Linked DNA regions of Homo sapiens. The protein of the gene in region 2 purifies or fractionates together with the protein of the main gene of each other region. This does not show direct contact. Each region holds a gene or a part of one and is shown on either strand. Other genes may lie near its edges. The genes, in order: ANKRD27, SLC12A8, CRY1, DAGLB, CPT1A, STK40 and ACAA2.

Region 1 (3,500 bases), on a different chromosome or scaffold from region 2:
GTCTCCCAGACGCTTTAGCTCATCATTATTTTGGGAGATTCTACATCAAAGTCTGACAAAGATGAATGTTCAATCCTTGGCACTCTCACCTTATAATACAGAGATCTTTTCATTTTATAGATTTCAACTTTGTGATTTCTGTATGATCACATTTTACTCATTGGTATGTAGTAAAACAGGCCAGCAGGACAACCATGGTTCAAGATTCTCACGATTCACATAGAAATATAATCACATCCCCTCGCCGACCCCAGCCAATGCTCAATAAAAACCAAGGAAACAATGGCAAGGCCACTGAGTCCTCAAATTGCACACATTAATGGTCTCACAGATGGCAGTGGCAGCCCATCGGGAGTGGCTGCTGCAAAGACGTAAGCTGCAGTGGAGGAAGCGCGGCCAGGTTTGTGCACTCTGCAGGGCCAACAGGAGCCAGGAACAGGCAGGAGCCCCCATCTCCTACTGAGCTGGCAGGGCGGGAGCCCTGCACTCCCAGGCGCAGCTGCAGCCGCCCAGCCGCAGCTCTGGATCCAGGAATCTCTGCACTCTCAGGGGCCCAGGAAGCATCCCTGCCGCCGCAGGCTCGTAAGTGCCTGCTCCCGCTCCTCCCCACTCCTGGCACCGACTTCAATTTCAGAGCAAAGCTGAGGCCAAGCCCGGGTACTGTTGCAACCCAGCCATGTGTGCACATGCTTGGTGTGACACTGACACACCAGCCTCCTGATGCCTCAGACCCCTCCAAGATTTTGGGCGCTGATGAGCATGGGAGAGTAGTCAAGGTAGGGGCTGAGGGCAGCTCAGTGCAGGCCTGCAGATGCCCCTTGGCACAAACAGCCTGGATGCACTGGCCAGCATGTTGATGGTGGCAGAAGGCAGACACGCTTCTGGGTGGAAAGGTGCAGGTGCCCAGTGAAGCCCCACCTTCAAGACAGGGACAGCCTAAAGCCTGGGGGCCGGGCTGTCAGTCCCAAGTGGAGTCCACGACCCAGACTGAGAACTCATGGTGCTTTCTCCAGGCCCACCTATGGACCAATCAGCACATACTCCCTCCCTTCTGAGCCATAAAAAACCCCGGACTCAGCCAGACTCAGACAGATGTCGGGACTACCAACTGCAGGAAGGAGCTACCTACGTCAGGCCTCTTTAACTCGTCAGGACGACCTGCCTGTGGAAAGAAGCTGCCCACTGTGGGTCTCCTGAGAGCTATTCTGCCGTTCAGTAAAGCTCCTCTCTGCCTTGCTCACCCTCCACTAGTCTACGTACCTCATTCTTCCTCGACATGGGACAAGAACTCGGGACCCACCAAATGGCAGGACTGAAAGAGCTGTAACATAAAGAGAGCTAAAACATGCTCCCGACTCACTACATTGCAGGTGACGAGAGGAGAGAAGAGCTCTGGCCCTTCAGGGAGCCCAACCTAGGAGTTCCCCGAGCCAGGGCTATGACACCCTCTTTGGGGCTCTGCAGTTCCTGGTGTCTCCAAGCTTCCAGGCCCCACTGTGTTCCCCAGTGCCCACCGTGGAAGCGGCCTACAGTACGCCTGCTCTAGCTGCAGCCTTGCATGGAGCAGGACCCTGTACAAGCAACTTGGAGCTGCCCACCCCACCTCAGTCGGCACACCTGGTTGTGTGCAGTGGCCAGACCCTGCACTTGCTCACATACCCCTCGCCACTCCACACCTGGCTCGCCCTTGGCAGGCATGGGATCCAGGCCAGTAGCACAAGCCGAGCGCAGCCTGCCAGGCCAAGAGCGTGAAATGAGCCCAGCAGGCCCGAACAAAACTCAGGCAAAGGAGCCACCAGCCACAGAGGTTTCCGGCTGGAAAAGCGACAGTCCAGGGATCCCGTGACATCACTTCTTGACTATCAAGGTCAAGAAATCCAAATTCCCTACTTCTGGCTTCCCTTTGCACCCACATGTCTTTGGAGAGGATGGGGACTAATGAAGTAGGATATTAACAATGTAAATCCCAATGATAACCCACCAATTTTTACCACCAATTGAGGGCTTGGTGTTCTCTTCACTGAGTGATTTTTAAGACTCACAGCCCTCAAACAGCTGAGGCCCCATTCCTGGGAGGCAATTTAAGAATCCGTCTGCCCACATACCAACCCCAGCACCCTATCAAGGGAACCATGATGCCCACAAAGGAAGGCCAGGGCAGGGGTGAGATCTTACAGGGGGTTTAGCAGAGAGGCTTCCTTGCCGAATATATTCAATGGCAGCTTCGAATGAGGTCAGGCAGTATCCCAGTTCATCCTTTGCCAAGCTGCTAAACCTGAAGTTTTTGATGTAACTCAAATTTGCCATCCTAATGAAAGGAAGAAAAAAGTTATGTTGTTGTCTATCCAAGTCACACTTCTGCAAAAAAAATATCATTGGCTTGGGCAACTGATCAAATATCTAGTCAGTTGGTTCGCTCAGGAAGCTACGACCACCATCCCCTGGATCTCTCTGCAGAGTGTGTGCGATTAGGAACACAAGTAAAATGACTAGCTAGTTCCCTGAAATAGTCTTTAGCAAGCTGATTACCGTAAACTGAGCTGTGGGTTCCAGGGGAGAGATTATGGGTTTTGGGGCCAGAAAGAATGGCAATCAGCTTTCTGCTCAACCACTGTCTAGACACTCATTCCAGAACAAGAAATGTAAGCTCTCCGGGCCTTGGTTTCCCCATCTGTAAGTGGATGGATGAAGCAAGGGGAGGCCCCACACCTAGCTCGTAACAGGTGTCCAATTGAAGATGGGCTTTTCCTAGAGTTACATTAGAACTACCACAGTGCAGTGCTGCCATTTTTTTTTTTTGAGACGGAGTCTCGCTATGTCGCCCAGGCTGGAGTGCGGTGGCGCGATTTCAGCTCACTGCAAGCTCCGCCTCCTGGGTTCACGCCATTCTCCTGCCTCAGCCTCCTGAGTAGCTGGGACTACAGGTGCCCACCACCATGCCCAGCTAATTTTTTTGTATTTTTTAGTAGAGACGGGGTTTCACCGTGTTAGCCAGGATGGTCTCGATCTCCTGACCTCGTGATCCGCCCGCCTTGGCCTCCCAAAGTGCTGGGATTACAGGCGTGAGCCACCGTGCCCGGCCAAGCACTGCCATTTTCAAAAGAGTATCTTAAAAGAAAATGTTACCAATTAGGGATCTCCGTTTTCACAAGCAAGTATAACAGGACTGATAGCAGATCATCAGCACACATGGTCTCCAGGTTCACTGCAAAGGGGAAACACACATTCAATGCCATCATGAGATTCAAATGGACTGACAAGCATATCAACTCCCTACCACCGCACACCTTGTGAAACCACGTATCAGGGAGATCATACACTGGGGGAGAAATGTCATTGCACAAGCTCCTTTACAGCGTCCTGATCAGATGTCAGGTCCAGGGGGAAAAGAATGCCCAGCAATTTCAGAACATGACCAAAACAAGGTATTAGTAACTCTAGCCAGATACGGCAGCACGTGCCTGTAATCCCAGTGCTTTGGGAGGCCGAGACGGGAGAAT
Region 2 (3,500 bases):
TGCCCAACTAATTTTTGTAGTTTTAGTAGAGATGGGGTTTCACTATGTTAGCCAGGCTGGTCTTGAACTCCTGACCTCAGGTGATCTGCCCACCTTGGCCTCCCAAAGTGCTGAGATTACAGGCGTAAGCCACCACGCCCAGCCCTATTTTACCATAATTTTTAAAATGAGGAGAAAAAAGGATTATGAAGTTACATCTGGGATCAATGGGAAAGGATCCCATGATCCACTAGCAATGTCTGAACATGCAGGGTGGAAATATTAGCAAGTACAACCCGGACATCTAGAGTCTCAAAAACAAACCAACAAAATGCAACCAAATGAACACTCGGTTGGGTTCTGCCTGGATTTTCCTAGCCTGCAGCTCTAGCTCCTCACTGATATTGAAAGGGGACAGAGGGTGGGTGTAATTCCCCAGAATCCCAGGGCCTTAAAAGGTAAGAAGCAGTGATACTGCAAGAGTGGAGGAGAAGGAGTGAGATTAGGGCACATGTGAAATATACCCTCTCTATGAGGCTTCTATTTCTCAGGAAAGTTTTTTTTCTCCTTTCCTGTATATCTGACCATAGAGGTCCCACAGAAATCCTCCAGGATCTCCACTTTATTTCTATACTTGGCCTCTGCACTGTCCCCAACCCAGTCATGTCAACTACCTCTGACTCAGATGGAAGAATGTGCTTCCTGGCGTTACATTTCCCTTGGGCTTTAATCTTGTGTGTGATTATGCATTGATGTGAATGTGTCTTAGACTGTAAACTCACTGAGAGTAGTGACTTATCACCCCAGCAACCAGATTCTAAATAAAGCCTCTGTTCTTGATGACTGAGGATAAGAAGGGAAGAGGACATGAGCCTAGAGGAAGCTTCTGATGAGCCGAATCTGGGGGCCGAGTGTGGTGGAGTGCACGCAGGAGCAACATCTGAGTCTCCCGGAGGTGCCCAGTTGTTAGGTTCCCATGCCACAATCCAGGCCCAAGCCCAGCCAGGAATGGGACACCCTTGGCACCTCCCAGGACTCTGGACACTCATCCATTCTGGTACTGGCTCCAAATTGGCACAGACCTGCAGGAGGGGAGCAAGAGAGACCTCATCCACCGGAAAAAGCTGAAGTTGGAGGCTGATCCTGCAGGGAAGACATATACATAACCATTTTTGAAGGTTCTACATAAGGCATCTAGAAGCTCAGTTTTAATAGGGTGAATGCAAACCCCAATACACACACACGCACAGAATTAACACAAATGTTTTCCTTTTTCAGTCTAAACAAATAATTTTCATTGTAATCTTCCATGACAGCAGCCTACTAAGGACTTTTACTCATGTGAATCCTTCAAAAGTTTATTTCCAAACTCCAAAATCACTCCCAAAAAACTGGATAAAGTGCTATAAAGACAAATGCAGAGACTTGCTAACTTTAGTCTTAAGAATTAAAAAACTTTGATAAATTTTTTAAGATTCATACTGACAAGTGTTGAATACACGCCATAAAATTTTCTACTAGACCATACACTGAGAATTGGGAACATGTCTTTTTCATCCTTATAATCATCACAGTACCTCACAGGATCTGGCACTTAAGAATTTTTTTAACAGGTGTTAAGTGAATCAAATAGTTCCACATGTAGAAATGTTAGAGCTGAAGTTTGAAGTGACATTGTTGTTGATTCTAGCCAAATAATCCTGACATCAAACACACAGATTTGAATAGGGTTTATCAATTGAAAAAAATCCATTCCTCCTTTGGTGTAGGTTTAAAAAAATTCACATAGTAAATTATATATAACTTTAGAGAAACAAATCAAATGTGATTTTAGAAAATGCTTTCCTAAATTATACATACATATGATTGAAAATTGATTGATTAGATAATGTTCAATATATGATCAGGAAAATAGCATTATTTTAAGAGGCTTATGTTAAAATCTCCACAAATATCAACAGTATGCAGCTGATAACCTGTTTCCTCAATATCATTTAGGCCCTTATGGCTAAAGGGAAGATAAATTTTAGATCTGCATTTGCAATTGCAAAGAGAAGATTTCTAATACATTTTGAGATTGTCAGAAGGAAGAAAATAAACATATTTTATTAACTCACCCTACTTAAGTGTGATAATTTAGATTCTAAATTATTTGAATTTTAGATGGACATTGGCCTGAAATTTGATTTCATGTTTTCCTATGAATAGATTTCTAGGAAATAATTGAAATTTCTTAAGATCAAACTACTTTTTAAGAAATAAAGAAGCAATCACTGAAGTAATCACTGTTAATTAAAATATATTCTATCCATGAAGTCAGCTAACATAAGGACCTCTTCTTAACATTACTGTTTTCTAAATCATTATTTTTAATACACACGACTTAAAATGTTTGAAGTGCATTTCTTTCAAAGTGTTTGAAGTGCATCAGACTATTCTAATTCTGAAGAACCTTTTTCTCTTTTTTTTTTTTTTTTGTGAGTCGGAGTCTCACTCTGTTGCCCAGGCTGGAGTGCAATGGCTTGATCTCGGCTCACTGCAACCTCTGCCTACTGGGCTCTTACTTTGGGTTTAATTTGCTCTTCTTTTTCTAGTTTCTTAAGTTGGATGTTGGGATCACTGATTTGCAAATGATCTTCTTTTCTAACGTAAGCATTTGATGCTATAAATTTTCCTTAGCTACATCCCACAATTTTGCTGTTCCATTTTCACCTTTATTCAGTTCAAAATACTTTGTAATTTCACTCTGCTTTCTTCTTTGAATCATGGATTATTTATTTTCTGTATTTTAATTAGGGTTATGTAATATTCTTTAGTTTCTAAATATTTGGGGATTTTCTTTTCTTTTTTTAATTTTTAATTTAGGAGACAGAGTCTTGTTATTTTGCCCAGGCTGGCCTCAAACTCCTGGCCTCAAGCAATTCTCCTGCCTTAGCCCTCCAAGTAGCTAAGACAACAGGTGTGTGCGAACTGTGCCTGGCTTATTCAAGGATTTTCTGATATCTTTCTGTTATTTATTTCTAATTATTCCCCCTCTGGTCAGAGAGCATACTCTGTTCTTGAATTGACTTGAATACTTTTAAATTTATTGAAATATTTTTTATGTACTAGAATATAGTCTCTCCTGGTAAATGTTTCATGTATAATTGAAAAGAACATATATTCTGCTGTTTTGGGGTAGAATGTTCTCTAACTGTCAATTAAGCCAGGTTTGTTGATAGTGTTATTCAAGTCTTCTGTAGACTTACTGATTGTATACTTATTTATCAATTATTAGGAAGGAGGTATTGAAATCTCTGACTATGGTTGTGAACTTTTCTATTTCTTCCTGTAGTTCTATCAGGTTTTGGTTTGTGTATTTCAAAGCTGTGTTTTTAAGTGCATAAATGTTAAGCTTTGTTATGTCTTCCTGATGTATTTTTCCCTTCAGCTTCATGAAATCACCCTCTTTATCACTGTAATATTCTTTTCTCCAAACTCTACTTTGCCTAATGTTAATATAGCTACCCTGCTTTGTTTTT
Region 3 (3,500 bases), on a different chromosome or scaffold from region 2:
TTTTTCTTTTCTCTTTTCTTTTCCTTTCTTTCTTTTTCTTTCTTTCTTTGTTTCTTTCTTTTTCTTTTTCTTAACAGTATTTAACACATTTGACCACACCTTTCTCTTCTTCTCTTGGCTTTAGTTAGACTGCCACCACTGTGGGTCCTGGAGGGCAGTGCCCCTGTTCCCGCTGCTCTACAGTGAGTTCTCTGTGGGGACTGTAACCCCATATTTCCCCTTGGCACCAGCCTAGTAGAATCTCTCTGTAGGAGCTCTGCTGTGGCAGGCTTCTGCCTGGACAGCCAGACTTCTTGACATATCTTGTGAAATCTAGGTGGAAGCTGCCAAACCTCCATGGATCTTGTATTCTGTATACCTGCAGACTTAACACCACTTGGAAACCATCAAGGCCTATGGTTTGCACCCACTGGAGTGGCAGTCCAGACAGTACCTGGGGCCTTTTGAGCCCTGGCTGCAGCCAGAGCAGCCAGAACGTGGGGAGTAGCATCTCAAGACCGCACAAGGCAGCAACACCCTGGGCCTGGCCTCCCAAACCATTTTGCCCGAGGAGGCCTCTGAGCCTGTGATGGAAGGGGTAGCCTTGATTTCTGGAATGTCTTGGGGGCTTTTCCCCATTGTCTTGACTGTTAACAACTGGCTCTCTTTTATTCATGTTAATTGCTTTAACAACCTGTTCTGTCAGGGCCTGGTACCTGGGGCTAGGTAGTTTGGATTTCTCTCCTGAAAACTTCCCTCTACCACATGGTTAGGTTGTAAATTTTTCAAATTTGTATGCTCTGTTTTTCTCTTAATTATTAGCTTTAACTTTGTCTTTTTTTTGAACTCCCATATCTGATAGTAGGCTGTTAGAAGCAGCCATGTCACCTTTTGAACGCTTTGTTGTTTAGAAACTTTTTTTTGCCAGGTAGCTTAAGTCATTACTCTTAAGTTCAGCCTTTTACAAAGTCCTAGGCATGGATACAATGTAGCCAAGTTTTTTGTTAACAAGCATAACATATAATGTGGCCATTTTTTTGTTTTAGTTTTTAAAAATTTTATTTGAGATCTCATGAACGTGGCCTTTACTGTCTATATTTTAATCAGCATTTTTATCACAACCTCTTAACCAGTCTCTAAAAAGTTTTAAAGTTTTTCTTGTGTATGAGGTTTTTTGTTTTTGTTTTGTTTTGTTTTGAGTTCTCTAAGCTCTTGTAAGCAGCTTTAGTTTTTGCTTTTTTTTTAATACTTTAAGTTCTGGGATACATGTACAGAACCTGCAGGTTTGTTACGTAGGTATACATGTGCCATGGTGGTTTTGCTGCACCCATCAACCTGTCATCTAGGTTTTAAGCCCCACATGCATTAGGTATTTGTCCTAATGGTCTCCATCCCCTTGCCCCTCAACCCCTGGCAGGCCCCGGTATGTGCTGTTCCCCTCCCCGTGTCCATGTGTTCTCATTGTTCAACTCCTACTTATGGAGAACATGCGATGTTTGGTTTTCTGTTCCTATGTTAGTTTGCTGAGAATGATGCTTTCCAGCTTCATCCATGTCCCTGCAAAGGACATGAACTCATTCTTTTTTATGGCTGCTTCATATTCCACAGTGTATATGTGCCAGATTTTCTTTATCCAGTCTATCATTGATGGGCATTTGGGTTGGTTCCAAGTCTTTGCTATTGTGAACAGTGCCACAATAAACATACATGTGCCTGTGTCATTATAGTAGAATGATTTATAATCCTTTGGGTATATACCCAGTAATGGGATTGCTGGGTCAAATGATATTTCTGTTTGTAGATCCTTGAGGAATCACCACACTGTCTTCCATAATGGTTGACCTAATTTACACTCCCACCAACAGTGTAAAAGCGTTCCTATTTCTTCACATCCTCTCCAGCATCTGTTGTTTCCTGACTTTTAATAATCGCTGTTCTAACTGGCATGAAATGGTATCTCATTGTGGTTTTGATTTGCATTTCTCTAATGACCAGTGATGATGAGCTTTTTTTTCATGTTTTTTGGCCACATAAATGTCTTTTGAGAAGTGTCTGTTCATATCCTTCACCCACTTTTTGATGGGTTTTTTTTTTTTTGTAAATTTGTTTAAGTTCCTTGTAGATTTTAGATATTAGACCTTTGTCAGATGGATAGATTGCAAAAATTTTCTCCCATTCTATAGGTTGTCTGTTCACTCTGATGATGGTTTCTTTCACTGTGCAGAAACTCTTTAGTTTAATTAGATCCCATTTGTCAAGTTTGGCTTTTGTTGCCATTGCTTTTGGTGTTTTAGTCATGAAGTCTTTGCCCATGCCTATGTCCTGAATGGTATTGCCTAGGTTTTCTTCTAGGGTTTTTATGGTTTTAGGTTTTACATGTAAGTCTTTAATTCGTCTTGAGTGAATTTTTGTATACAGTGTAAGGAAGGGGTCCAGTTTCAGTTTTCTGCATATGGCTAGCCAGTTTTCCCAGCACCATTTATTAAATAGGGAATCCTTTCCCCATTTCTTGTTTTTGTCAAGATCAGATGGTTGTAGGTGTGTGGTGTTATTTCTGAGGCCTCTGTTCTGTTCCACTGGTCTATGTATCTGTTTTGGTACCAGTACCATGCTATTTTGGTTACTGTAGCCTTGTAGTATAGTTTGAAGTCAGGTAGCATGATGCTTCCAGCTTTGTTCTTTTTGCTTAGGATTGTCTTGGCTATACAGGCTCTTTTTTTGGTTCCATATGAAATTTAAAGTAGTTGTTTCTAGTTCTGTGAAGAAAGTCAATGGTAACTTGATGGGAATAGCATTGAATCTATTAATTACTTTGGGCAGTATGGCCATTTTCATGATGCTGATTCTTCCTATCCATGAGCATGGAATGTTTTTCCATTTGTTTGTGTCCTCTCTTATTTCTTTGAGCAGTGGTTTGTAGTTCTCCTTGAAGAGGTCCTTCACATCCCTTGTAAGTTGGATTCCTAGGTATTTTATTTTCTTTGTAGCAGTTGTGAATGGGAGTTCATTCGTGACTTGACTCTCTATTATTGGTGTATAGGAATGCTTGTGATTTTTGCTGATTGATTTTGTATCCCGAGACTTTGCTGAAGTTGCTTATCAGCTTAAGGAGTTTTGGGGCTGAGGCAATGGAATTTTCTAAATATACAATCATGTCATCTGCAAACAAAGACAATTTGACTTTCTTTCTATTTGAATACCCTTTATTTCTTTCTCTTGCCTGATTGCCCTGGCCAGAATTTCCAATACTATGTTGAATAGGAGTGGTGAGAGAGGGCATCCTTGTTTTGTGCCAGTTTTCAATGGGAATGCTTCCAGCTTTTGCCCATTCAGTATGATATTGGCTATGGGTTTGTCATAAATAGCTCTTATTATTCTGAGTAACGTTCCATCAATACCTAGTTTATTGAGAGTTTTTAGCATGAAGCGGTGTTGAATTTTGTCCAAGGCCTTTTCTGCATCTATTGAGATAATTGTGTGGTTTTTGTCATTGGTTCTGTTTATATGATGGATTACATTTA
Region 4 (3,500 bases), on a different chromosome or scaffold from region 2:
TTTGCAGCTGCTGTTGAGCAGATACCAAGCACAGGCAGTGGCATGAATCGAGGTTGGAATCAGATAGTGAGTGACTTCTTACCACTTTGTATCATGATGGAAATGATCGACGATGCTACTTTTGGAAGACAGTTTGAATAGATGATTGCAGCACAGAAGGGAGCGTCATTCTAGAGCGAGTTCTTCCGCAATTTGAAAATGCTTGTTTTTTTTTTTTCACATGCAGCGTGTCATCTTTTTATATGACATTCTCTGCTAAATGCTGTTAAATTCCATACTGAGATGAGGTAAGGGAGGAAGAGTTCTCTGCTTATCCTGCACACCTGCCAGTCTCTCTTCCCACCTCTGTGCTATCCGACTTGGCACCATTCAGGGCTGGTCCTGGAGCCTGACACCAAGTCATAGCAGCAGCCTCCGTAGAGGGAAGAGGGAAGCGTGTCCCCTCAGTAACTTAAAGAAGTGCTTAAACCTAGTCTTAAGATATCTGGAAGAGGGAAGAAGAGAAGCTGGTTATTTCTAGAGGATGTCGTAATCTACATCACAGGCAGAACTGATGGCTCAGTGGCTGAGTGGCCAGTATATTGTCTTTTTTTTTTTTTTTTTGAGACAAGGTCTCGTTTTGTCACCCGGGCTGGAGTGCAGTGGCGCCATCTTGGCACAACCTCCACCTCCTGTGTTCGAGAGATTCTCCTGCCTCAGCGTACTGAGTAGCTAGAGTACTACAATAGCTGGGATGACAGGCACCTGCCACCACGCCCAGCTAATTTTTGTATTTATAGTAGAGACAGGGTTTCACCATGTTGGCCAGGCTGGTCTCGAACTTCTGACCTCAGGTGATCCGCCCACCTCGGCCTCCCAAAGTGCTGGGATTACAGGCGTGAGTCATCGCACCTGGCAGTATATTGTCCATTCTTACGGGCTACAAGTACCCGGAGGTGATTGAGAATTCCTAATTCCTCCATTTCCTGGAGAAAAAGGACATGTCAGGCCTAAGAAGACTCACTCTCTGTTGCTTTCCCAGCTTGGGGTCCTTTATGAGGCTTGCCATACCCTGTGAGTATGAGTTTAGTCTCATAAATCTCTACCATCCACTGTGTTTCAACAAAACCTTCCCAGCATCTTGAGAAATGAGAGTATAAACGTGGGCTAAAATGGTGCATTGCTACAAAAACGGACAATTTATCCATTGATTTCTCCACTTTACAAAATATTTGAAGTAGATTAAAAATAGTTGAGTCACATGAAGTGAAATTTTAAGACAGACGAATAGCATTTTTATATTCTCCAGTGGACTTGTCTGAGGGCAGGATGTGAAAACATATTCAGGTCACATAGAGAAGCACTCCTGCCAGGAGCAGTCTTTTTAACATACCTCTGTGTCTAGAAATGTCTGTGTGTGCGTGAATGCCTATCAACTATAGAAGACTGGATTTTAGGGAACCCGGGGGTGGTGCCTGCTGGGTTTTATGACAGGCCATTGTGGTTTCCCACCCAGGACACAGATCTGGTGCCCAGCGACATTGCGGCGGGCCTCGCCCTGCTTCATCAGCAACAGGACAATATCAGGAACAACCAAGAGCCTGCCCAGGTGGTCTGCCATGCCCCAGGGAGCTCCCAGGTGAGCCTGGCTTCATGGAGTGTCCAGTTCTGACACTTACACCTTTTGGTGGGTCTTCAGAATCATACAGCTAACCTATAGCAATTTCTTCCTCCCTTCCTTCATTCCCCTTTCCCCTCCCTCCCCTCCCCCTCCTCCCCTTCCCTCCCCTCTCCCACCTTTTTTTTTTTTTTTTTTAAGACGGAGTCTCGCTCTGTCGCCCAGGCTGGAGTGCAGTGGCACAATCGCGGCTTACTGCAAGTTCTGCCTCCCAGGTTCACACCATTCTCCTGCCCCAGCCTCCTGAGTAGCTGGGACTACAGGCGCCTGCCACCACACCTGGCTAATTTTTTTTCTTATTTTTAGTAGAGACGGGGTTTCACCGTGTTAGCCAGGATGGTCTCCATCTCTTCACCTCATGATCTGCCCACCTCAGCCTCCCAAAGTGCTGGGATTACAGGCGTGAGCCACCGTGCCCAGCCTCCCCTCCCCTTTTTTTCTTTTTCTTTTTATGAGATGGAGTTTTGCTCTTGTTGCTCGGGCTGGAGTGCAATGACACAATTGGCTCACCACAACTTCCACCTCCCGGGTGATTCTCCTGCCTCAGCCTCCTGAGTAGCTGGGATTACAGGCGCATACCATCACACTCAGCTAATTTTTTGTATTTTTAGTAGAGATGGGGTTTTGCCATGTTGGCCAGGCTGGTCTCAAACTCATGACCTCAGGTAATCTGCCTGCCTCGGCTTCCCAGAGTGCTGGGATTACAGGCATGAGCCACCACACCGGGCCTATTTTTCATTTTTTTAACTTTTATTTTAGGTTCAGGGGTACATGAGCAGGGTTGTTACACCGGTAAACTCATGTCACGAAGGTTTGTTGTACAGATTATTTTGTCACCCAGGTACTAAGCCTAGGACCCTACAGCAGTTTCATTAGCAGCAGGGTTGGAATCTGATTGGCGGCTTCCACTGGTTGTATTGCATCACCTGTCAGGTGAGGCATCTTCGTTATCAACTGGAGTTCAGGTAGTGGGAACCCATTCCTGGCCACTTTATCATCCATCATATCTTTATTTTTTATTTTATTTTTTGAGACAGAGTCTCTGTCACCCAGGCTGGAGTGCAATGGCATGATCTTGGCTCACTGCACCCTCTGTCTCCTGACTTCAAGCAATTCTCCTGCCTCAGCCTCCACAGTAGCTGGGACTACAGGCGTGCACCACCATGCCCAGCTAATTTTTGTATTTTTAGCAGAGACGGGGTTTCACCGTGTTGGCCAGGCTGTTCTCAAACTCTTAGCCTCAAGTGATTTGCCGGCCTTGGCCCCCCAAAGTGCTGGGATTACAGGCGTGAGCCACTGCATCCGGCCACATTTATCATATCTTTGAAGGCTTATGTTTTAGGAAATTTGCTGTTCAATTCTATGCATTAGAACAATTCCTCCTGGGATGGGGACTGCGATTCTCCCTGGGTGTGTTTGCTTTCTTCTCTGGGGCTGGGGGCAGAAGCAGTTCAGCTTTGCTTGGTGATAATTTTCCTGCCACAGGTTGTTATGTTTTTGAGAAAGAAAATTGCACGTAGACGGTATGTATCTTCGCTGCTCCGGGTTAAGCCACTCAGTTCTTGACAGCTCGTGTGTGGCAGTGGCATGGAAATGTACTAGTTTCAGGCATCTAGATAGGAAGCGCCGGCTCATTTCAGCAAAAACAGCAGAGAAGTCATTGGAGTGTTTTTTACTGTTAACTTCCCCGTGCTTGCTGTGTTCCTATAAAATGAGGAGTCAGGCTGGGCGTGGTGGCTCACGCCTGGCTTCCCAGCACTTTGGGAGGCCAAGGCAGGTTGATCACCTGAGGTCGGGAGTTCGAGACCAGCCTGGCCAACATGGTGAAACCCCGTCTCTACTA
Region 5 (3,500 bases), on a different chromosome or scaffold from region 2:
GCCACTGTGCCCGACCCAGAACATTCTTTTTACCAAACCCTTTGGCATATGCTAGACAATGTGACCCATATATATTTTTATATTGATGTATTTGACTAGCATTAGATCATTTAATTCCCACTAGCACCCTAGGAAATGGGTACTAGGGCTATCTCCATGTACTAATGAGAAAACCAGGGCTTAGATGTCAAGAAACTTGCCCAGTGTCACAGCCAGCAAATAGCAGGGCTGGAAATCAAACCCAGGCCCAGGCCAGGTGCGGTGGCTCACGCCTCTAATCCCAGCACTTTGGCAGGCCAAGGCGGACAGATCACCTGAGCTCAAGAGTTCGAGACCAGCCTGACCAATATGGTGAAACCCTGTCTCTACTAAAAATACAAAAAATTAGCTGGGCTTGGTGGCATGCACCCGTAGTCCCAGATACTAGGGAAACTGAGACAGGAGAATTTCTTGAACCTGGCAGGTGGAGGTTGCAGTGAGCCAAGATTGCACCACTGCACTCCAGCCTGGGTGACAGAGCGAGACTCTGTCTCAAAAACAAACAAACAAACAAACAAACAAACAAAAACCCAGGTCCAACTCCAAAACTTATACTCTTAACTCCCAAAGTAAAGTGGTAGGTACTACACAAAAAGTTCTACTTAGGATTCCTAAAGTTACAACACAGATATAAAATTAGGTCACTGTTGTAACCAAAATGATGAGATTGCAGCCAGCAATAAAACTCCAGTAAGTATAAACACCATCAGTGCCAACTGTAAAATTATTCACATGCTGCAGTCTTCCCACTAGCATTGCACAGTGCCCATGCACACAGGAGCAGGCTCTGCTTTCTATTCAAACCTAGCTAACAGCTGCCCATCTCCTCCAGCGGTAAACAACTATGTTGGAAATCCTCTGAGAAAATGTTACCCATGGGAAGCGACAGCTTAGCTCAGCAGGAATACCAGGCAGGGCCTCTAGGAACAGAGAAAGTGTGAGGCTGGATGACATGGGCCTCATCCCTGGAAAAACTGGAGAAGGCGCTGTAGGCAGGGTCAGAAGCAGTGTCTCTGGCGAAGGGCAGGGCAGTTATCTCATCATCTACAACACATTCTTGGATGCCCGGGTGACCAATGCCTGGGAAGATTCTGCTTCGCTAGAAAGCTAGTGCCAGCCTCCGGGACTGGCTCCAGCTCGGGGAAACCACCTTCACAACATGCATGATGTCCAAGGTGGCAAAAATCTGGCCTGGCCTCCTCACTGCTGCCCAAAGAACTTCAAGGGAAGTACCAGGAAGGCTCTGGAAGGACAGCAGCAGCCCAGGGGGTTCCCTAGAACTAGCACACATGTGCAGTAAAGTTCATGGCTCTTCTGAACTGAGATGCAGGCAAAAATTAGCAATAATGGGAAGGAAGAAAAGCAGCAGCTCCTCTTCTCCAGGCAAGTGTGGGTGTGCGCTCTCTGCACTGTATGAGCCACATCGTTATTCAATTGCAGATATGCACATCTGTAATGGTGCCCTTGTACTTTTCCAGTAAATGTGTATACACACAAACAGAAGTTGTTTCCCAAACTTGGCTGGGCGTGTTGGCTCACGCCTGTAATCCCAGCACTTTGGGAGGCCAAGGTGGGCGGATCACCTGAGGCCAGGAGTTCAAAACCAGCCTGGCCAACATGGTGAAACCCCATCTCTACTAAAAATACAAAACATTAGCTGGGTGTGGTGGTGGGCACCTGTAGCAGGAGAATTGCTTGAACCTGGTTGGTGGAGGTTGCAGTGAGCCAAGGTCCCACCACCGCACTCCAGCCTGGGCAACAAGAGCGAAACTCCATCTCAAAAAAGAAAAAAAAAAAGAAATTGTTTCCCAAACCTGATGGAAGCACCTTAGAAGTGAGAATGTAAGACTCACCTTATGTTTTTCGGAGGGTTTCATGTACAAGAAAGGTGAAGGATTTTCATTATTATTTTTTTTTTATAAGACAGGGTCTTGTTCTGTTGCCGAGCGTGACCTTGAACTCCTGGCTCAAGAGATCATCTTGCCTCAGCCTAAGCTGGGACTACAGGTGTGCTCCACTACACCCAGCCTGGAGCTTTCATTATGAAAGGTTGCGTCTTGAATTCATGACTGATCATTCAATATTCACATTATTTAAATTGGCCACACAGTGGATTTCCTGTACTGAAGTTTATCATAATGGACTATTCACATTTATGGGGTCAATATAATGGGTCGTCAGGTTATAAAAGGAATTCTGGGCTGGGCACGGTGGCTCATGCCTATAATCCCAGCACTTTGGGAGGCTGAGGCGTGTGGATCACCTGAGGTCAGGAGTTCAAGACCAGCCTGGCCAACGTGGCAAAACCTCATCTCTAGTAAAAATACAAAAATTAGCCAGGTGTGGTGGTGGGCACTTGTAATCCAGCTATTCGGGAGGCTGAGGCAGGAGAATCGCTTGAACCCGGGAGGCAGAGGTTGCAGTGAGCCGAGATCATGCCACTGCACCCCAGCCTGGGTGACAGAGGGAGACTTCGTCTCAAAAAATAAAAATAATAAAATAAAAGGAATTCTGGACTGGGTATGGTGGCTCATGCCTGTAATCCCAATACTTTGGCAGGCGAAGGCAGGAAGTTCGCTTGAGCCCAGGTATTTGAGACCAATCTGGGCAATGTAGCAAGACCCCATCTCTACAAAAAATACAAAAATTAGCCAAGGTGTGGGTAGTGCATGCCTGTGGTCCCAGCTACTTGCGAGTATCACTCGAGCCCAGGAGTTTGAGGTTATAGTGAGCTATGATCACGCCACTGCACTCTAGCCTGGATGACAGAGCGAGACCCTGTCTTACCAAGTACTGTAAAAATTAAGCCAATTCTGGGTGGATCACTTGAGGTCAGGAGTTTGAGACCAGCCTGGCCAACATGATGAAACCCTGTCTCTACTAACAAACAAAAACTACCTGGGCATGGTGGTGCATGCCTGTAATCTCAGCTACTCGGGAGGCTGAGGCAGGAGAATTGCTTGAACTGGGGAGGCGGAGGTTGCAGTGAGCCATGATTGCGCCACTGCACTCCAGCCCGGGCGATAGGGCGAGACTCCATCTCAAAAAAAAAAAAATTAAGCCAATTCAAATTTAGACCTTATAGTGCACCACGTCAATAAGTAATGGTTAGATAAATACAGACAAATATGATCTTAGAAAAAAAATTTGGAAAAGCCACAAAGATTCACAATTTTATAAAGAAGATAGCCAACGTATTGACAGACCCAGTTATCTGACCTAGCTATTCAGAAGCCCACCAGAAGTTTAACAGCTGCTACTTCTTTCCCACTGTGCCTGCCCTGCCTCTAGCCAGCATCGGCACTCGGGCAGGAGCTCAGACTGCAAGGAGGAGACCTGCACCTGCCCAAAGGACATCCTAAACCTCCTCTTCGTACCAGTATATTGTTCCCACAAATGTCCCTAAGACAACAGGAGCGGTGTCCCCTGTATCTCCCATGCATATTCTTCACCTTTGCACA
Region 6 (3,500 bases), on a different chromosome or scaffold from region 2:
GGCAGGAGAATCATTTGAACCCCAGAGGCGTAGGCTGCAGTGCGCTGAGATCGCGCCATTGCACTCCAGCCTGGGCAACAAGAGCAAAACTCCATCTCAAAAAAAAAAAAAAATTCACGACTTTGACAGCGAGCAATACAATTCACTTTCTGAAGTTTGACTGAATGTTGAGGGCTATGGCTGCTCAGAGGGGCAACAGGCTGCCTGGTATGATTAGAAAAGCCAAGAGCAGGCGATCCCTTCAGAGTGCCCCTCTGTTGGCTTCACCTGCTCTGAATCACCAAGAGCTGGACACGGCAGATCACGAGGGCCAGCAGCCACCAGTGAAAGACTATGTCCATGCATTGAGGGCGTGTTCATTACCTGTCTGCTTATATGTAGGTCTCGAGAAGGGTCTGGTCCACCTCAGGCCTCCCAGGCTCTGCACAAGCCCAGAAGGTATGCAGAAAAAAGGTGTGAAACCATAGCCAACAAAGAAAAAGAAAATGTACCTGCCTTGGGCCCAGCAATGCCAGTTCCGGGGATGGATCCTGCAGATATACTCACACAGGTTCACAAAGATAATGTGCTCAACAAAAGTCCCTATAGAGCCACGTGTAGCAGCAAAAAACAAAACCATAAAAATCAACACACACACACACATGCCCCCAAGGCAGGAAACTATCTAAATGGCCATCCAGAGAGGACTGGTTAACTAATTATGTTCAGCTAGACAATGGATACTATGCAGCCTTTCCGACTAGGTCCACACCTGCTGATAAAGATGTCTATGTTACCAAAATAAGCACACTGCAGGAATATATGTACAACATAATCCTACTTGGGTTAAAAAAGATTATACACACTTTTGAATACGCATAGGCAACTTCTAGAAGAAATTTTTTTTTTTTTTTTTGAGATGGAGTGCAGTGGTACAATCTCGGCTCATTGTAACTATCACCTCCCCGGTTCAAGCAATACTCTGCCTCAGCCTCCCGAGTAGCTGGGATTATAGGTGCTCACCACCACACCTGGCTTTTTGTATTTTTAGTAGAGACGGGGTTTCACCATCTTGGCTAGGCTGGTCTTGAACTCCTAACCTCATGATCCACTCGCCTCGGCCTCCCAAAGTGCTGGGATTACTGGCATGAGCCACCGTGCCCAGCCTAGAAGAAATTTAAGTGGACACCTCCAGTCAATAGAACTAAGGGCCCAAGGAGGGGAGGGAGAGCTTTATTTTATATTCTCCCATATTATTTAACTATTGTACCATAAACTATTAAACTAACAATACTTTTTTAAAATCTAAAGATTTTCTGAACCCATTAGAATTATTAAGAGTAGTAGTGGAGCCAGGCGTGGTGGCTCACGCCTGTAATCCCAGCACTTTGGGAGGCTGAGGTGGCATATCATGAGGTCAGGAGTTCAAGACCAGCCTGGCCAACATGGTAAAACCCCATCTCTACTAAAAATACAAAAATTAGCCGGGTGTGGTGGCACTCGCCTGTAGTCCCAGCTACTCGGGAGGCTGAGGCAGGAGAATTGCTTGAACCTGGGAGGCGGAGGTTGCAGTGAGCCAAGACCATGCCATTGCACTCCAGCCTGGGCAACAGAGTGAGACTCCGTCTCAAAAAAAAAAAAAAAAAAAAAAAAAGTAGTAGTGGAATCAGGGGAGGCTGAGCCTCAGAGAAGGCAGACTTGAGAGAGTATGGCCTGGGAAGAGGTGTAAGCATAAGTGCCCTGGATGTGTGAGCTTGTGTGCCAATGCAATGGTGCAGCAAAAGAGTGAGAGGCAGAAGGACAAAGACAACACCCCTGCAGCTCTCCAGATAGGCTGCAAACATGCCTATAAGGAACTTCCTGCCTGCCCCCTGGCATCCATAAGGGCTGAAAACTGGCTCAGGATGCCTCTTTTGGTACACTCACAGGTTCACTGCCAAGAGCTCACCTGGGCCTTGCTGGAGCTGGCCCCTGGGTCCTGCCTGCCTGCCATGCACTAGGCTGAACGTGGTAGAGGCTATAAAGCCCTGTGTCTCATGACTACCTTAAGGGCAAGAATTGTTATGCCCATTTTACAGAGGAGGAAGCTGGGGTTGGAGACAGGAAGTGACTTGTTCAAGGTCACTCACTTCAGGTTCTGAAGCCACATCTGATCTGAGCCTAGGCCCTTAACTGCATGGTTGCAAGTCTCCTTGCCCACTACCCATAGGGCAGGTCAGGGAGGGACCTGTCTCAAGGCAGTGGCAGTTTCCATTTTTCAGGCAAAAAAAGGGACTGGTTCAGCTTTGGGGCTGGCTCTATGAGTCCAAGATTCTATGTGGGCTGGACTCCCTGGGACCAGAGCCTAGCCAGGATGGAGGAAGGGAACATGGGCTTTAGAGTCACACAAATGTGAGTTGGAAATCCCAGCTCTGCCCTTACTGGCTGTGTAATAGTAGACAGTCTTTTTACCCCGCTCTGAGCCTGAGTGTTCTCTGTAAAATAAGAGACAACCCTTACTTCCTTAGATTCAATAACGTATTGCAGTATTACAAAGGACCTGGGAGGTGGTGGGGCTTTTTTTCTTTTTTTTTTGAGACGGAGTCTTGCTCTGTCACCAGGCTGGAGTGCAGTGACACGATCTTGGCTCACTGCAACCTCCGCCTCCTGGGTTCAAGCGATTCTCCTGCCTCAGCCTCCTGAGTAGCTGGGACTACAGCCGTGCGCCACCACGCCTGGCTAATTTTTTGTATTTTAGTAGAGATGTGGTTTCACCATGTTGGCCAGGATGGTCTCGATCTCCTGAACTCGTGATCTGCCCGCCTCGGCCTCCCGAAGTGTTGAGATTACAGGCGTGAGCCACCGTGCCAGCCGGGCCTCCTTTTTTTGCTGGTTTCCTTCCTGTTTTTTCAGAAGGGACCACTCCAGGAGTCAGAAAAGAACACACACTATGAAACTTACCCCAAACTCAGTAATGCTGGAAGCGCCATACTTATTGCAAAAAGTAGCAGGACTCTTGCTCCCCAGGGTTGGCAGATGCCAGCAACAGGATTCCAAAAGCCCCACGGAATGCTGGGCTACACCAGGCCCAAGGTCCCCAAGGCGCTGAACCGAGCTTCTCCCTAGAAGCACTGCTGTCCCCTCAACACACCTCACATCAGCTCTGCCCCAGAGAGAAATGACAAGCACATCAGTCCTGCTCTTGCCAATTCCCACTACAATGACCAGTCCACTCTCTCTTCCTTCTGGACCCTTGCATCCAGACTTCCTAAAGGCTGAAGATCTTCTATCTCTTTTGCCAAGTAGGTGGCAGTGTGTAAACATATTTAGAGGGGACAGCTTTATTCTGCATGCCAAGACCCCTTCTCAGTTTTTCTACCTCTGGTGCTTTCCAACAACTAGAGTTCCTTTGAAACCGTCAGGCCTGTAGACTGCTAAGTTCTGGGGAGCCTGAACTCACACCCAAGACTGACTGTCATGGCCAGGAGAGAATGAACACCGTTGGGTTGTAGCCTCTTTTTTTTTTTTTTTTGAAACGGAGT
Region 7 (3,500 bases), on a different chromosome or scaffold from region 2:
TAGATGTAATGGCAATAAATGGACTTAATACCCCTTTTAAACTTCTTTTGGTGAGATAAGCAATTAAAAAGTTACCAAGTTGTCTATGCCACAAAGTAATCTAACTGAAACTTAATAGTGATAGGCAACCTGAAGAAATTATGGGAGCAATCACTAATACAATTATAAGTAAAACATCTTACCTACTTTGACCTCCACTGACTAGAATGTACTGTAGTAATCTATAGCTTTGGAAATAGGGTCAGGAATAATACTAACCTTAATTTTCATATCACTTTACAATTGGCAAAATACTTTCCTTATATGCCCTTATTTGGTTTTAAAACAACCTTATTAGATAAATAGGGAAGGCAAATATTGTTATCTCTATCTTACAGAGGTTCAGTGAATAAATGATATGACTGAGCTTGATAACTTGTGCGTGGTAGAAGTAGAAACAGAACTGATAACTCTTGACTTCTAGACCAATCCTCTTCCACTATGAACATATAAGTAAAAAAACACACGAGTTAGATGGCATCAGCTCTATTCCACTTATCCTTCTGAAATGCTAAGATGGACTTTATCCTCATTACTTCAAGCATTTAATATTCCTAAATAAGAGTTTCCACTTGCTTTAACAGTTTAATTTTTTAAATATCACATTTCTTCAACTTGCTGCACTGCTAAAAGAACTGCTGTCACATTTGCCTGTTTTGGACCGGCTCTATAGCAACCTGCTGTGCTACACCAGGGCACTCTAACTAGAGTCTCGGACTAGTTCTAAGTCTCTGAGTTAGGTACAATGATTCTTAATTAGGAGTGGCAGAAGGAAAGCATAAAAGACCCAGTGGGTCTTTTCCAAATACATTACCCCTTCTTATGATTATGATATGGCTTGTGGGAGAGGACATCCTCTATATTCCAGTTGCCACAGTGAGCTATCACCTCTGACAGAACGTATCGTATTCCTCATCATGTTCTACTGACAACAGGACCAGTTCAGCACAAAACTCAAGGGTCCATCTAGGGTCAAGTAGCAATACCACTTTTTAAGTAGTACTAACTTTTTCAAAAGAGAAATTCCTAGTTAATTTTGCAATAATTAATAAAATATCTGATCATCTAAAGACAAAGGAATAATGAAAAGATGTAATAATTCTTAAAGGTATGATTTGTAAATATTATATAACCATAATAGAAATGATGAAAATATTTCCTATAGATATTTATTCTATAGATACTGATACTTTCCAGTTTCACTCACCAGCTTTCCATCTCTGCTGTGACTGCAGGGCATATTTGTCACATTCTTCTCTGCTTATTTTGTGTTTTACAGCAAGATTCTCTGCAGTCATTGCCATGGGGAGCTGGACATGCTGATCTGTTAATGATACCCATAAAGAATCTTCCAGCTATTAAAAGACATTAATAAAGTGACTTGTTAAGGCATTTCCTTTTAAAAGTAATATGTTATAATTTCTTTAAATAATCAACACTTCCAATAAACAAAAGTAAAATTAAGACTTTCTGATAACCACTATTCATATTCAGTTATGGGATATTTTTTAAAAACATGCAATGTTTTTGAAAACATTCAATGTCACAAAATAAAATGCACACATTCTCTGTCCCTCTCTAAATGTGGGGGTCTAAGAACAGCTAACAGGACTAGACGTGCATGGTGAGATCACAGAAGTTACCCTACGATCAAAAATTAAATCCTCAAGGTCATATTTTGTAGAAAACCTGACAATGAGTCTTCATGCAATGTTTTCTTATAGCCATCTTTGTAAACCAGCCCTGAGCTCTGTAATAAACAGTATTATCTGTTTTTCTTTTTCATCCTGCGCCTCAGTGACAGGAATAGCTGGTTCTATCGGTTACTATGAGGCTGAAAAGATCTTGGGACAGGTTCCCAGAGTTACAGAAAGGTTGTTAATTATTATTCAAGTAGTTAGTCTCTGGTAAGTGTGCCCCACTTTGCTGCCTCATCAACATTTAACTCACTGACCTGTCTTCATAAAAGATATCTCAAATGTGTTTGGTGGCTAAAATCCGCATAGATTCTCTTAAGTCCCATTCCTTTCAACTTCCAAAAAGGCCAGGTGAGAAACTGGGTGAACAGTGTGAGTCAAACATTACTATAGAAAATGCTAAAAAATATAAAATGTCAGTAGCCCTTTCACATGGGAATGAGAAGAAAACATCATTCTTTATCAGTACTGTACCATCATTCTCAAGTTGTAGCTCTCAAAGATAAAAGAATCAGTTTTTGTTTGATTTGGGACAATATAATCTGTATTCAAAGATGTTTTCTGTGATGATGAAGAAATCTATTCTGAGACTGTCCCAGAAATAAAACTTCTATAAGTCACGTTAAAGATTTAATTACTCAGATTACTAATTGTTTAGTAGTGAGATTAATTCACTCTTTTGTCTATCTTTTTAATCCACTTCTTCCCTTCCTCCATCTCTCCCATGCCTATGGCCACTTACACAGGATAATTATACTACTAGAGGTCTGCTGAGATAGATAGAATCTAATTTCATATGGGTTAAAATGTCAAAACTAACCACCAAAATAGAGTTTTGAAATAGTTTACAAACTTCTAATCATTCATATCTTGCCAATCCTCATCAACGAAATTGGCTTCAAAATTAGTTTTCTCTCCCATAAAAAGGTATGTTATTAAAAGTACTTATATAATGCTAATAAGAACTAATTCTTTTAAATTTTTATGGTTCCAACCTTGATATCTGATCCAAGCTTGGTTCCAAAACGCACATTTCTGACACAGTAGGGAGCTTGGCTCATGCTTTCGGTTCCTCCACATAAAACAACTTCAGCTTCTTTAACACAAATTTCCTATTTAAAAACAAACAGTAATAAAAACTCCTTTTACCGTACCCAAACAATGTATTAAGAAACACACTGATTTTACAAATTAATGGTAAATCAAACAAATATTGTACTGTAGCTTACAGTGTCTCAAAAGGAAATGCTTTTAAAGTAACTGTAAAGCAAATGCTAAAGTATCCATTACCAAGATGTAGGAGGAGAAAACTAAAAGGTTTCAATCATGTTTGCCTGAGTAACAGGCCCTACCTACATGTGGCTAAGAATAGTAATTCTTAACACAATATAAATCTTGAAAATCAACAGATATTAATACCTGGCATAAATGTACAGCAGATAATAAAGGACATACCCTTTAAAAAGGCAAAAGAAAAATTTATCCCATTAATGGATGTATCTGAACAAGAACAGAGATTTACAAGAACTAGTTCAATCTAGGTGACTCATAAAAAGGAAACCACTTCATTCTTCCAACACTTTCCACTGTTTGCCTTTCTCAGAAAAGGAGCAAATAATGAGCCTCTATGAACCTGATGGTTCTTAAAATTATTACTAGGAAAACCGAGGTCACTATTTAAGATATATCGTTATAGAAACAAATTAATGTGAAAATTGTTTTATTAAAATACGCCTCTGGCTCTTATTTTGTTTGTAATAAAAT

The links.
Region 1: the proteins of SLC12A8 (region 2) and ANKRD27 purify together in Homo sapiens (affinity purification with mass spectrometry; one large-scale study listed by BioGRID and IntAct). This does not show direct contact.
Region 3: the proteins of SLC12A8 (region 2) and CRY1 purify together in Homo sapiens (co-immunoprecipitation; one large-scale study listed by IntAct). This does not show direct contact.
Region 4: the proteins of SLC12A8 (region 2) and DAGLB purify together in Homo sapiens (affinity purification with mass spectrometry; one large-scale study listed by BioGRID and IntAct). This does not show direct contact.
Region 5: the proteins of SLC12A8 (region 2) and CPT1A purify together in Homo sapiens (affinity purification with mass spectrometry; one large-scale study listed by BioGRID and IntAct). This does not show direct contact.
Region 6: the proteins of SLC12A8 (region 2) and STK40 purify together in Homo sapiens (affinity purification with mass spectrometry; one large-scale study listed by BioGRID and IntAct). This does not show direct contact.
Region 7: the proteins of SLC12A8 (region 2) and ACAA2 purify together in Homo sapiens (affinity purification with mass spectrometry; one large-scale study listed by BioGRID and IntAct). This does not show direct contact.

What each region holds. Positions count from the first base shown.
Region 1 is NC_000019.10:32,637,181-32,640,680, forward strand, and holds part of ANKRD27 (ankyrin repeat domain-containing protein 27), read right to left. Parts: intron 3,206-3,500; coding exon 3,127-3,205; intron 2,309-3,126; coding exon 2,176-2,308; intron 1-2,175. UniProt on the Homo sapiens protein: May be a guanine exchange factor (GEF) for Rab21, Rab32 and Rab38 and regulate endosome dynamics.
Region 2 is NC_000003.12:125,087,249-125,090,748, forward strand, and holds part of SLC12A8 (solute carrier family 12 member 8), read right to left. Parts: intron 1,123-3,500; coding exon 1,062-1,122; intron 1-1,061. UniProt on the Homo sapiens protein: Cation/chloride cotransporter that may play a role in the control of keratinocyte proliferation.
Region 3 is NC_000012.12:107,083,550-107,087,049, reverse strand, and holds part of CRY1 (cryptochrome-1), read left to right. Parts: intron 1-3,500.
Region 4 is NC_000007.14:6,430,955-6,434,454, reverse strand, and holds part of DAGLB (diacylglycerol lipase-beta), read left to right. Parts: intron 1-1,495; coding exon 1,496-1,618; intron 1,619-3,500.
Region 5 is NC_000011.10:68,831,917-68,835,416, forward strand, and holds part of CPT1A (carnitine O-palmitoyltransferase 1, liver isoform), read right to left. Parts: intron 1-3,500. UniProt on the Homo sapiens protein: Catalyzes the transfer of the acyl group of long-chain fatty acid-CoA conjugates onto carnitine, an essential step for the mitochondrial uptake of long-chain fatty acids and their subsequent beta-oxidation in the mitochondrion.
Region 6 is NC_000001.11:36,375,925-36,379,424, forward strand, and holds part of STK40 (serine/threonine-protein kinase 40), read right to left. Parts: intron 1-3,500. UniProt on the Homo sapiens protein: May be a negative regulator of NF-kappa-B and p53-mediated gene transcription.
Region 7 is NC_000018.10:49,793,034-49,796,533, forward strand, and holds part of ACAA2 (3-ketoacyl-CoA thiolase, mitochondrial), read right to left. Parts: intron 2,849-3,500; coding exon 2,732-2,848; intron 1,395-2,731; coding exon 1,247-1,394; intron 1-1,246. UniProt on the Homo sapiens protein: In the production of energy from fats, this is one of the enzymes that catalyzes the last step of the mitochondrial beta-oxidation pathway, an aerobic process breaking down fatty acids into acetyl-CoA.